Linked DNA regions of Homo sapiens: all the other regions are reported to be linked to region 1. Evidence: microRNA targets listed by miRTarBase, many of them from high-throughput screens and not tested one by one. Region 1 holds a microRNA gene; each other region holds the end of a gene's coding sequence.

Evidence for each region. Region 1 holds the annotated microRNA hsa-miR-664b-3p (UUCAUUUGCCUCCCAGCCUACA, at 1,414-1,435, shown strand). A microRNA usually pairs through its seed, bases 2 to 8, with sites in the 3' UTR of a target mRNA and lowers its output. Matches are read on the target gene's strand: a 7mer-m8 pairs with bases 2 to 8, a 7mer-A1 pairs with bases 2 to 7 and ends in A, and an 8mer does both.
Region 2: miRTarBase lists TMEM72 as a target of hsa-miR-664b-3p. Seed matches in the 3' UTR shown: 7mer-A1 at 1,765-1,771 and 7mer-m8 at 1,233-1,239.
Region 3: miRTarBase lists ARFGEF2 as a target of hsa-miR-664b-3p. Seed matches in the 3' UTR shown: 7mer-A1 at 1,203-1,209.
Region 4: miRTarBase lists MPZL3 as a target of hsa-miR-664b-3p. Seed matches in the 3' UTR shown: 7mer-A1 at 2,435-2,441.

Annotation. Positions count from the first base shown.
Region 1 is chrX:154,767,222-154,770,311 of GRCh38, forward strand. MIR664B (microRNA 664b) reads left to right here and starts at 1,375; the gene lies at 1,375-1,435. It overlaps DKC1 (dyskerin pseudouridine synthase 1), which reads left to right. Exons shown (of 15, transcript NM_001363.5): 7 at 35-161; 8 at 1,081-1,211; 9 at 1,946-2,089. SNORA36A (small nucleolar RNA, H/ACA box 36A) reads left to right here and starts at 1,307; the gene lies at 1,307-1,438.
Region 2 is chr10:44,934,698-44,937,787 of GRCh38, reverse strand. TMEM72 (transmembrane protein 72) reads right to left here. Exons shown (of 5, transcript NM_001123376.3): 5 at 778-3,090. The coding sequence ends at 2,654. The region is part of intron 1 of TMEM72-AS1 (TMEM72 antisense RNA 1); the gene reads left to right. Among named protein-coding and RNA genes, the nearest start is that of TMEM72-AS1, 23 kb to the left of the region's middle. RefSeq lists an enhancer at 1,913-2,207.
Region 3 is chr20:49,032,855-49,035,944 of GRCh38, forward strand. ARFGEF2 (ARF guanine nucleotide exchange factor 2) reads left to right here. Exons shown (of 39, transcript NM_006420.3): 39 at 169-3,090. The coding sequence ends at 345. Among named protein-coding and RNA genes, the nearest start is that of CSE1L-DT, 12 kb to the right of the region's middle.
Region 4 is chr11:118,227,067-118,230,156 of GRCh38, forward strand. MPZL3 (myelin protein zero like 3) reads right to left here. Exons shown (of 6, transcript NM_198275.3): 6 at 1-2,854. The coding sequence ends at 2,828. Among named protein-coding and RNA genes, the nearest start is that of JAML, 3.6 kb to the left of the region's middle.

The DNA of each region.
Region 1 (3,090 bases):
TGAGGTGTTTGTTTTCATTTGTGTTTGTTCTTAGGCCCTAGAAACTCTGACAGGTGCCTTATTCCAGCGACCCCCACTTATTGCTGCAGTAAAGAGGCAGCTCCGAGTGAGGACCATCTACGAGAGCAAAATGATTGAATACGATCCTGAAAGAAGATTAGGTGAGTCATTAGGCCTGTGAGTGGGTATGAACACATTCTTCAGGATTCTGTTCTCTTATTAAAAGTAGATGCCCTTGAAGTTGAAGACTTTCTAAAACCTGCCCTACAGCTGGGATATTGTCTGTGGGCGATAGTTTTTGTTATCTTTTGTTGAAAAAGTGAACAGTGCCTAGTAAAGTGAGATGGCTTTTACACCTTTTATGATGACTGCTTCTGCTGGAGTTGAAATGTTTTCATTCTGCATTTGTGTAGTTCGGTGCTTTGTTCAAAGGTAAGTGTTTTCACCAAAGTATGTTTTGCATGTGTTTTTTATTTGTTGCAATTTTGACTGCTTAGAAGTTTCTGTTGTCAGAAGTAAATTTAAGACAATGCCAATTTTCCTCCCATCCATGAAACATACCATGCTGAATATACCTGCAACTTAAGTGTTAAAAATTCTGCTAATATCAGAATTACAGATCTTTTTTTTTTTTTTTTTTTTTTTTTGAGACGGAGTCTCGCTCTGTCGCCCAGGCTGGAGTGCGGTGGCATGATCTCGGCTCACTGCAAACTCTGTCTCCCGGGTTCACACCATTTTCCTGCCTCAGCCTCCCAAGTAGCTGGGACTATAGGCGCCCGCCATCATGCCCGGCTAATTTTTTGTACATTTAGTAGAGACGGGGTTTCACCATGTTAGCCAGGATGGTCTTGATCTCCTGACGTCGTGATCCACCCGCCTCTGCCTCCCAAAGTGCTGGAATTACAGGCGTGAGCCACCGTGCCTGGCCAGAATTACAGATCTTTACAGCAAATGCTTATATTTTAAGAAGTGTGTCTGTCACCTCTAGTCTTGGTGGCTCAGATGAAGGATAACTGCATTTCTCAACCAGTGATGTATTTACAGTAGGTGCTGCTTTTCTTTTGTGTGTGTGTATCTTAGGAATCTTTTGGGTGAGTTGTGAGGCTGGCACCTACATTCGGACATTATGTGTGCACCTTGGTTTGTTATTGGGAGTTGGTGGTCAGATGCAGGAGCTTCGGAGGGTTCGTTCTGGAGTCATGAGTGAAAAGGTATGTGTTACGGGGCTAGAAGTTTTAGAGCTGGTTCTTACCATCTGCCAGCCTTTGATGGCACTCCACTTGCTTCATGTCGTGGGAAAGATGCTTTCCAAAGTGTTGAGTTCAGTCCAGGGCAGCTTCCCTGTTCTGTTAATTAAACTTTGGGACATTAAAATGGGCTAAGGGAGATGATTGGGTAGAAAGTATTATTCTATTCATTTGCCTCCCAGCCTACAAAAATGCCTGCTTGGGGTCTAATACTTCAACGGTTAAAGATGCCTGGAAGAGGGCGCGGTGGCTCACGCCTGTAATCCCAGCACTTTGGGAGGCCGAGGCGGGTGGATCATGAGGTCAGGAGATCGAGACCATCCTGGCTAACAAGGTGAAACCCCGTCTCTACTAAAAATACAAAAAAAATTAGCCGGGCGCGGTGGCGGGCGCCTGTAGTCCCAGCTACTCGGGAGGCTGAGGCAGGAGAATGGCGTGAACCCGGGAAGCGGAGCTTGCAGTGAGCCGAGATTGCGCCACTGCAGTCCGCAGTCCCACCTGGGCGACAGAGCGAGACTCCGTCTCAAAAAAAAAAAAAAAAAAAAAAAAAAGATGCCTGGAAGAGCCAGGACTGAAGAGGCTGAAGACATAATGAGCTTGGACTAGTAAACAAGTGACATTCAGTTTTAGGAAGTTTGGGGTCTGATGGGCTGAGATACAAATAAACTGAATTATTTTCATACATGGCTGCTTTTCAGGACCACATGGTGACAATGCATGATGTGCTTGATGCTCAGTGGCTGTATGATAACCACAAGGATGAGAGTTACCTGCGGCGAGTTGTTTACCCTTTGGAAAAGCTGTTGACATCTCATAAACGGCTGGTTATGAAAGACAGTGCAGTAAGTTCCGGGTTAGGAGTTTATATTTGGAAAGAACGTACTCCAAAGATGAGGCTTGCTCTTTTTATTGTTTTCCTTGGGTTTTATTTTATTTTTTTCAAGTCCAAACCAAGTATATTAATTTAAAGTAAAAGTTTAATGGTAGGCATACTTAAAAATAAGGCACATTAGGCCAGGCACAGTGGCTGATGCCTATAATCCTAGCACTTTGGCAGGCTGAGGCAAGAGGATCACTTGAGTCCAGGAAGGAGTTTGAGACCAGCTTGAGCCCAGGAGATCAAGGCTGTGAGCTGTGTTTTTATGATGATCAGAGAGTTGGCCTTTTATAAATTAAAACATTGTCTTTTTCTCTAACTTGAGGGATAAAAATTTCTGGATATTTAAAATGTTTGTAGTTGGTAATTATTTATATTCAAATCTTGTATAGATGTTCACATTTTTTGTATGTGTATAGGCTGTAATAAATACTGAAAGATGGCACCATAATAGTTGAAAAAACTCAGTCACAAAACAGTGGACAACATAAATGTGATGTCCTCTCCTTATCAAACCATTGGCTTCTGGGTGAATGTAAAGGGAGGGGAGAATGTGATCAAAAGAGGTCTAGGTGAGTGGAGATGGTATGAGGCAGATGGGTGCATTGGGTACCATTGAACCTCTGGAGAGGTAGCCTTAACTTGTACCCACTGACCTATAAATTCTGCACCAAGACTTTTGTGTGATTGGTTCAACAGGGCTCAGTAATCTTGTTTTCAAGTTCTTTAAGAGCCTGTTATTGCCTGGATCTCCAGTAAATCTGTTCTTTCTCCTCATAAGGAGGAGAGAGGAGTAATTAAGGAATGCCAAGGCTATTTTTATGTTTCAAATGAAAATATGGACCACGTGCGGTGGCTCACACCCATAATCCCAGCACTTTGGGAGGCCGGGCCAGGCAAATTGCTTGAGCTCAGGAGTTTGAGACCAGCCTGGGCAATATGGTGAAACCCTGTCTCTATTAAAAA
Region 2 (3,090 bases), not on the chromosome of region 1:
AGACGCAAGTCAGGGTGGTGCTTCCTCAGTGCCCCCTCACGGCGAGTCCCCCGTAGGGATAGGGATGTAGTGCAATCACAGTGACTTGTTTGTAGTTCTGAAAAGCACTTGCCCATGTCTTGTTGAGTTACTGCTGTGATTTGCACTTAATAGGGGAACCTGAGCCAGAGATGCGAAGGGGCTTGAACAAGGTCAGACGTGTATTAGTGGAGGTCGAATGGTGCTCAGCCTGGTGCTCTTTCTTCTTCCTGTCACTCTGTTCTTCATATACAAAATGCTCCCCTCTCTGCTGAGGTAGGGAGGGGGATCATGGCAGGGCCAGTCCTTCTAGTCTTTGCTTCTTGGCAAGGATGCAGATCATTACAACATCTGCTTTGCAGGGATTCTTCTGGACAAGGATGTGGTCATAGAGGTCACAGGCTGAGAATCAATGGAGACACGTGGTGCTCATCTGCTTATGAGGAAGATGCCACTTTCTTGCTTGGTCCACTGATGGGTGAGAATTCTGGCCTATTTAATGATCTCACTCCAGCTTTTTGTTTTTGTTTTGTAGCCATAAGAGTGTTTGAGAACTTTACTAACCTAGGTAAGATCATAATTGTCCTGTAATGCTGCACACCAGCAGACACTCTCTTAACTGATGACAATCTCCAGGAAGCCTATGTGCCTCAGAATTCCATCGCATCATCACTGGAACTCCCGGCACACACTAAGACACCTCCAAAAGGGTGCTCCCAACACACATCTCTAAAACACACCCAAAACAACACTCCACACTTGGGTTTACTGAAGTGTTTATTAAACGGGATCTGACATCTCTGCCATCACACTTTCTGGTTTGCTTCTTGCGATCTGGTCATCCAGCTCTGCTGACTGGGGCTTCGAGGACAGAACTACTCTGATGCAGAGGAACGTCAGAGGCTGGCCATGTCTGTGCCATGAGGGTGTCTGTGGCCATCACATTCCCCTTCCACAGTTGACAGGGGAAAGATGCCTGGCTTCTCTGCACTTAGGCTCTTTCTGTGCACAGGGGGCCTGCCTGAGACACCCGGCCCATCAGCCATGGGGCACGATCCTTGTCTACCACCTACCTATACCCATATCCCATATTGTTCACTATTCCCTGACTGTAGACAGTCAGGTCCTGAGGTCCTGCCTTGATGGCAGCTGAAGAAACAGCTCTGCAGCTCTCACCATCAAGGGCTTGCAGGAGTGTCTTGATTAGCCATTTGTCATTTGGTGAGACCTGGGCTACTGCAGGAAGAGCTCTGCTTATCTGCTTATCAGGAACACCTGCTGCATTTAGGCCCCAAACTGATACTAGCTTCTGGTTGGCCATTATTTTCATACCTTTGTAAAATATCCTGTAGGGAACATTGAAACGTGTGCAAGCACAAACACAAGTTTCTCATTAGACCATAGAGCATGCACTCTAAGGCTTGTTCTACAGAGCTTTGCGTTAGCCTCCACAGGGACTGAGAAGCCACAGGACTCTTCCTCCTGACTGCTCCCTCACTGCAGTTGCCATGAAGAATGGTGTGTGTGCTCTTCCTGGCAACAGCCTCATGGACCCGACAACAATTTTTAGAAGTAAAGCCTATATTGCAAATCCTTTACAGATTTACAAAGGAATATCTGATTCAGATGTCTTTGTTCCTTCTGGGTTAACTGTCACTTCCGTGGCCCCATGGCAGAGAACTTGCCTGCCTGCCCACTTCCTCCTATCCTCCCATTTTCCCTCCTCTTCTTCCCCCCTCACTTCCTTTCATTTTGAAGACATTTATATTTATCACCTATTCTGCTACCAAGTGCCTAAACACGGCACTGACACTTCTCTGTGCTGTGCCACCCCTGGGCAGCCTCTGTGGTCCTGCCCACAGCAGACATTGCCTTCTGGGCCCTGGCATTCACTGCGTTCAGTTTGCATCATCAACCTGGAATCTTGGAAAGGCCATGTGGTAAGGAGGCTGGAAGTCCCCAGCCATGTTTCTGGAATGAGCTTTGCTCATCTGGCCTGGCTTTCCCACAGTGAGCACAGAGCGGCATTGTTTTCCTGAGCAGCTCAGCCCCAGCCCTAGAGCATGCAGAGAATGTGGCCCACGGCCCGGCTGCTCCCACCAGAGGCCTGCAGCCTCCCCTCCCGACCCTGAGCAGTCTTGGTTGGTCAAGACCCACAGCCACCTTCTCTGCCTTAGAGATGCTTAAGTTACTGACACTTCCCTGGGCCTGCAGAGATGGGTGGACCATAGGTTCCTCACTGAGTGTTGTGCCCTGGGTTGGGAGTAAGAAAAGCCCAGAGGCTTTTGCTGGGCAGACATCCTCTGTCCCTTCTGGGCTGAGTCAATGGCACCTGCAGCCTCGTGCGCAGTGGCAGTGATGGTCTTGTTGGGGAAGCATAAGGGTTTCCCCACCTGTGGCCAGGAGGAAGGAGCTTGTGCTGGCTTGAGGTGGCGTGAGCCTTGTTTGTGCCTCCCTCGAGGCCTCTCCAGAAATGCTGGCCAGTCACACCTCCTGATGGCCTCAGGGGCCCAGCCAGTGTGGGGGTGTCTGGTTACCCCTTGAAAAGCTGACCAGAGAAGACCCTGAAACTCCAGGGAGGGCCATTGAGCTAGGTAGACCCCTCACTGAGCGTCCTCCAGGCTGGAGCAAGCGCTCAGAACAGGCCGGTGGCTGTAAGAGATGACAGGAAGAGTGGGGCCTGGGGAGGGGGAATGATGGGTGTCGTGTCAGAGGTGGTCTCCTCTGGCTCACTGTCCCCATCATCCAGACCTTCGGCGAGGGAGGGGACTATGCGGACCAAGTTGTCTTCAAAGTGCACCTGCTTCTTCTTGGCCAGGGAGTCGGCTGGCTCCAGGCTCAGCTCCATCAGGGTGTTGGGGGGCTGGAGGGCACTGGGCTTCTTAGTCCCCTTCAGGATACTCTTCATGTGGATGAAAAGGGAGCTGGGCCCCTCCTTGAGGGCCCCATGGAAAGTGTAGGTTTGCTCTGTGTCCCCAGAGCCGGTGGTGCTCACAGCGCTGCTAGAGGGGTCTGTGTACTGCTCTGGGGAGGCCAGCACCTCGGGGGCAGCTTTCCTCTTCTTCCGCTTGC
Region 3 (3,090 bases), not on the chromosome of region 1:
AGTGCTGGGATTATAGGCGTGAATCACTGCGCTCGGCCCCAACTTTCTAATAGCAAGAAAAGCACCAATATTGTAATAAGTTCCAGGGTGAGATTAACACTTCTGAAAAACTGGTGCCCAAAAAAAAAAAAAATTGTCTAATTTTATCTGTTTCTCTCCCACCTCAAGTTCAAAGCACATGCTTCAATGTACTACCCCTACTTGTGTGAAATTATGCAGTTTGACCTGATCCCTGAGCTCCGAGCAGTTCTGCGGAAGTTCTTCCTACGGATAGGTGTTGTGTATAAGATATGGATACCAGAAGAGCCATCACAGGTACCAGCAGCACTGTCACCAGTGTGGTAGCCCTGGCTGCCCAGGCCAGTGCTGCAGCTCTGCAGAATGTTCAGCATGCCATTTCTGACTGGCACATCTCGTGAAGTTTCATAGAAACAAGGAGTTGGCATCTTGGATCTCAGAATGGCCTGGAAACGGATGGCCTCTACGCTGTTCCATCACAGTCTCCAACTAAGGCTTATGGTATTTCATTAAACTGTTGCATACCCAGTTAGCACAGTAGGTGGGGAGTCTGCTTCATTTCTATCATTCCATTTTTCTGATTAAACTGTCAAATCTGTCATTGCATATGCCATCGTTTTCTAGCAAAATCCCATGATTGGCTATAAACGTTTTGTAAGAAGTCACTCTCCTTGAAAATACTGAACATAGCTGTATAGGTTTGTGATTATTAGAGAATATGTTAATAAAACTTCTTGTAACGGCTAACTGCCACCTAAAATATGCTGGGTTTTCTGTTGTTTGAGTGTGTTAGAGAAATTTGAATGTTTTTGTCAGTTACGAGTCAGCCGTAATTAGATTAGTTTAAGGACAGGTCAGGATTAGAGAAGAGTTGTTTTTGTGTTTTGTTAATGTCTGAGTGATTTTTAAAGTATTTTACAAAAAGATATTGAAAATTTGGTTGAAGGCAGAGTTTAGTAATTAAGTTAGAATTAAGAGTTTTGCGAGGTTAAAAAAATGTGCCTCGTGGATCTCCCTGTTTTAGTAACATGGAGAGAAAAAGTCTACACGAAAAAGTGAACAATTTAATGAAGATGATTAGCCTTCCTTGAAATAAGTATTTGTGGATGGGTGTTAAATTAAAATTTCCAGAATACACTGTCCATCTCACACACTCTGAAATCTAATATATGAAGTAGTAATGAAAATGAAGTAGTAATTTAACCAGAGTTCATTTATCCTTGAATAAACCTTTTTATTTTCACCTCAGAAAAGTGAGTGTACTGGCAGTTAGTGTCACTGCTTTGCACAGTCCCCATTAAAGGACCCTCCAGAGAGGGACAGTAACTGTGCATGAGAAGCCGCTCCCATAAGCCTCCTCAGCCAGATGTCATGGGTGGAACTGGAGCTGTGTCGGGGCCAGCACAGCTGAACTGTGACAATGGCAGGAGGTGGCATGTGCCCAGCACTTCCATTAATCTGAGCCTAGGAGTTGAATTCTTTGGCAAGGTTGGATTCTGAGGTCCTTATTATGTTAATGATGGTGCAATACTCTCACCTGCAGTAGAACTGAGTTCTGCTGCAGCTTGTGTAAAAGTGGGCAGTACACAAGTACGTCCCAAAGCCTGTGAGCAGTATACGTGGATGCTCACCCATGAGAAGGAGCACACACGCCTCATTCTCTGCCCTCACCCACTGCTCACCTAGAGCATCGCTGAGCGTTAGACAAAGTGTTACACAGAATGATTAAAACTTTCAGACTTCTACCTATGCTCTTTAGTCCTGTAAATTGGGTTGTATTGATGTCAACTCTGGTGCCTTAGAAGTTAGTAGTTTGGGAACCTATCTGTAAAATCAGATGTTTTTTCTTTGTAGAGAAGGATTTCTGGTGCTTTTGCTTACTAAGAGACCGATATTCTTAAGTTGTTTTCTTGTTTTAACAGCCTTGAGAAATGTTTGGTTTTGGCCAGCAGAATTCTTGTCTACTTTTTTCTTTCCCAAAAAGTGTTTTTTAATTTCTCTACCAAAGAAAAAATGAGCAGGTTTAGGTTTTTACATGACTTATATACATTAGATAAAAGGAGCTGTATAATTTAGCAGGAAGGGACTATGGGAGAATACTTTACTGTGAGTGGAAAATGTTAGCACATTTGACTGGTTTGCCCTGGAATCCACTGCACCTTTACACTGCACCATGAAACCTACACTCCCTGGTATCATAGCGCGTCATCACCTCAACAAGTCAGTCGTCTCCATTGATATTTGTACAAAAGGTATACATGGGGAACACGTGTTCATTCATTAAGTCCATCTTGCGTGCAGCTATATCCCTGATTGGTTATTTTTCCTTTCCTTCTGAGGTTCTCATGTCATTTTCTTCATCGGATGTGACTAAAATTTTTCTGGTGTCTTCTGCCCTCTCTTTAATTTTGCCTCTTGAGGGGTAGCAGATGTGTCAGTGCATTTTATTACTTGCTGAAACATTCAGGCTTACATTTCTTATTAGTTTAGTATTTTAAAAGATTTAATTTTCTGAATGAGGCATTTGAATTGTACCAGCAATGGACTTTTAAAAAATTGGATGTAAAACCATTCAGGGTGATTTTTCTTGTCAGTGGACAGTGACGAACAGAGATTTGAAATCCCTTACCTCCAATAATAAGCCATTCAGCCTAAATTCATTTTTATGAATAAATCTCTTCTTTCTCATGGTAAATGTGGCTTGTGCCACTCAAACACTAGTGAAAGGGTATGTACAACCGCAACATCAGGCCAGGACACCATTTATTTAACCAAGTAATGGAGGAGAGTGAAACATTTTCCAAGGCCTTATTTCTTTTTCAGAATGCTTTAAGTGTTGATTATATGTGCTGGGTCTCTAGAGAAGTTTTTATTTGTTACAATACTGCTGCTTTGAGCAATTTTGTTTCTCTTCATTGTCTGTTAGGGAAATCACCAGCTTTGGCATCTTAACAACAAACAGTGGATGGGTAATTTTTATTTCTGATACGCATCTTTAGAGTCAAATATATCTTTTCCCTGTACTCCTCATGTACAACCAAAGAACATACATTATGAAAATTGTATTATAAT
Region 4 (3,090 bases), not on the chromosome of region 1:
TGCTGGGTTCAGGAGCTACAGAGGACTAAGATGTTCCCCAAGTAGCCTGAAGTAACAGGTCACATGGAAAACACAAAGCAATTGGTGAGTCCACATTTTGTAATAGAATTAAGAGCGTAATGCATAAAACTTAAAGTCATGTAACCACATGTAAAAACTTCAGCAGCTAAAGAAAAATTCTGGAAGGCTTTTAACCCCTTCTGAACTAAGTTCCCTTTCTAAACGAGGCTGGTTTCCATGGCTGTGACAAGAGCTCATGAGGTAGCAAAAAGAGAGAGAGAATAGCACCTTAGAAGTTACTCAAACAAGAGGTGAAACAAATAAGTAAACAAAAAAAGACCACTTTATCTTCCTTTCATCCTTAAAGAAGGCAGGTGTCTGTACACTGCTTTGTGATCCTTCGAAGAATAAAAAGCTGTAACCCAAATCTCAGTATAAGGGATGAAGAAGGAAAATGATAGCAGCTGATGACTGGGATGCGACCACAAACCCATATAGTAAACTAAGTTATCAACGTACTCCCTTACCACGAAGGACTTCATTCAGTCATTTAAAAAGCAAGGGACTAGTTCAAATCATGATTAAGGCTATAAAAGAACACGACTGAGTATTCACAGAGCACCAATTACCTCAAGTTTAGACTAGGTGTCAATCTACAAACATACTACCCTGCATTAATCTTCACAACACACCTGCGAGGACATTACAAGAAGGCCCAGCCAAAATTAGTTCCTCATTTAATGGGATATGGCTTTCAGTGGGTTCCTGTAACACCATCTCTTTCTTGGAGAAATGAGGACCTGCAAAATAGTCCCCCTCACAATGAGATCTCTATCTTCAAATCTCTGAGAGCCCAAGTTATTTACTCTCATTGCTCAAGTTGCTTTCCTCTCTCTGTTGAGGTGTCAGAAATGGTCACGTTAGATTGGCCTCAGACAACCACAAAAGTTAACAAGCAGTCCCAAAGTACCGTGAGGTTTAACCACTGGAAATGTAAACTGCCGGTCCTGTCTTTGCCCTTCTACTTCCTCGCGTGACCAGAGTCAAATCACAATGTCCTTCAACTAACCAGATTCGCTCATCTGTGGACTAGGTTAACAGAAGAGGCTAGGCCAAATCTATGATACGGATCTAACAACCCAAATTTTTTAAATTAAGTCTTCAAAAAAAAAAGAAAGAAGTTGAGAGAGAGAAAAGTGATTTTTAAACTAACATATACAGTCTGAAGCGCTGTAATATGGAAACTTCCTGAACCACCTAATGAAAAATCATGAAAAGGGATCAACCTGTTGAAAGAATAGAGACAGGTGAGGGGATAATTTTTGTCTCTCATAATTGAGAAGTAAATCCAATCACTATTACAGAAGACTATTTATATATGCACCATCCATCTTTACTGATATACTATACATATGCCTTAATGGCTTATAAAAAATCCTATGTAAATTAACATTTGAAACAAGTTGTCATAGCAGAATGGAGTAACCTGCTGTAAGGCACTGAGAGAATACAAAGGAGAAGTATGTCATGCACAATCTCACTTCCTCATCTCAAATATTATGTAAAAACCACTTGCAAATACCATAGTTTACTCACAGTTGGCACATTTTAGAAATCAACAAAGTTTTGAAAAACAATACAAGTGAAAAGATGATTTAATTTGCAAAGAACTCCTGAAATACTCCATAAGCCCCCCACTAAAAACCTGTAAAGAGTTTTTCTTGCCTCTGACCTGAAAATTCAAGAAGAAAAGTTGTAGTTATAAGAAAATAAAATAACAGGCCAAGCACAGTGGCTCATGCCTGTAATCCCAACACTTTGGGAGGCCGAGGCAGGTGGATCACGAGGTCAGGGGATTGAGACCATCCTGGCCAAAATGGTGAAACCCCGTCTCTACTAAAAACACAAAAATTAGCTGGGTGTGGTGGCGCATGCCTGTAATCCCAGCTACTCGAGAGGCTGAGGCACAAGAATCGCTTGAACCCAGGAGGCAGAGGTTGCAGTGAGCCAAGATCACACCACTGCACTCCAGCCTGGCGACAGAGTGAGACTCTGCCTCAAAAAAAAAAAAAAAAAAAAAAAAGCAAGACAGAAAATAACAAAGACTCCTTAGCCCAAATTGTACCAGCAAGACTAAAGAAAATAATTTTTCTACTTCACGATTCCTTTCCTTAACTGTAAATTGATGACACTGTACTTAATACTTTAAAAACCCAGTCAAAGCAAACCAATGACTTGATCCTACCAACTCTAAGGAAACTAAGGGTATACACCCTAAGTTATCCAAACACAACTGAGGTTGAGGTCATTAAACCGGTAAGTATACGCCCTATACTAACTCACAGCTGAAAGTGTACATGGAGCAAAAAACAAAGAATACATATCCCAAGCGAATATTTTGTCTGGTGACACATCAGGAAGCCACAAGCTCCACTTCATTTAAAAAATTATTTGGGTATCAGCGGTGTGGCAAACATTCAAAATTCTCCTTCAAACAGTTGGAAGAAAACATGTAATACATTCCAGAGCAAAGATGAATCAAAAAGTATCTTTTTGCTCAGGAAAAGAATTTCTTCATTCAATTACAGCATAATTCATTGAAAGGGGAAGTCATGAGTCTCTTATGAGAGTTCCTGAACAGTTTATAAATACAACAAGAACATTTATTCAATAAATAAGTGGTTCCTAAAGTCTTTACTGATGATCTCCAGGATTGTCCATCGCTATGGTCCAGGCCAGCTCCACTTTCTCTGACAGGCTTTAGCTGCCAGTGGAATGGGATGTTTCCTGTCTTTAGGTGACTCTTCTTGTGTCATACAGACTTTCATCAATATGTCTCTTCATAGTCTGAATCCTGGAGGGAGCAAAACAGCAGGTGTGAAACACAATTCCAGAGTTGGAATTTAGGCAAAGACCACATGTTAGGATCCTCCAAATGGAACCTGGCTTGGGGAGACAGCCACAGTGAAATGCCACTGACTCAATACACCTAAATTCCCACGGAGCTTCACAGGACCTCAATATAATTGGTGTCTATTGGGCTAATTTCTGCTTTGAAGCCCTAGTGGTTTCCTTTCCCTTGGTGAATAT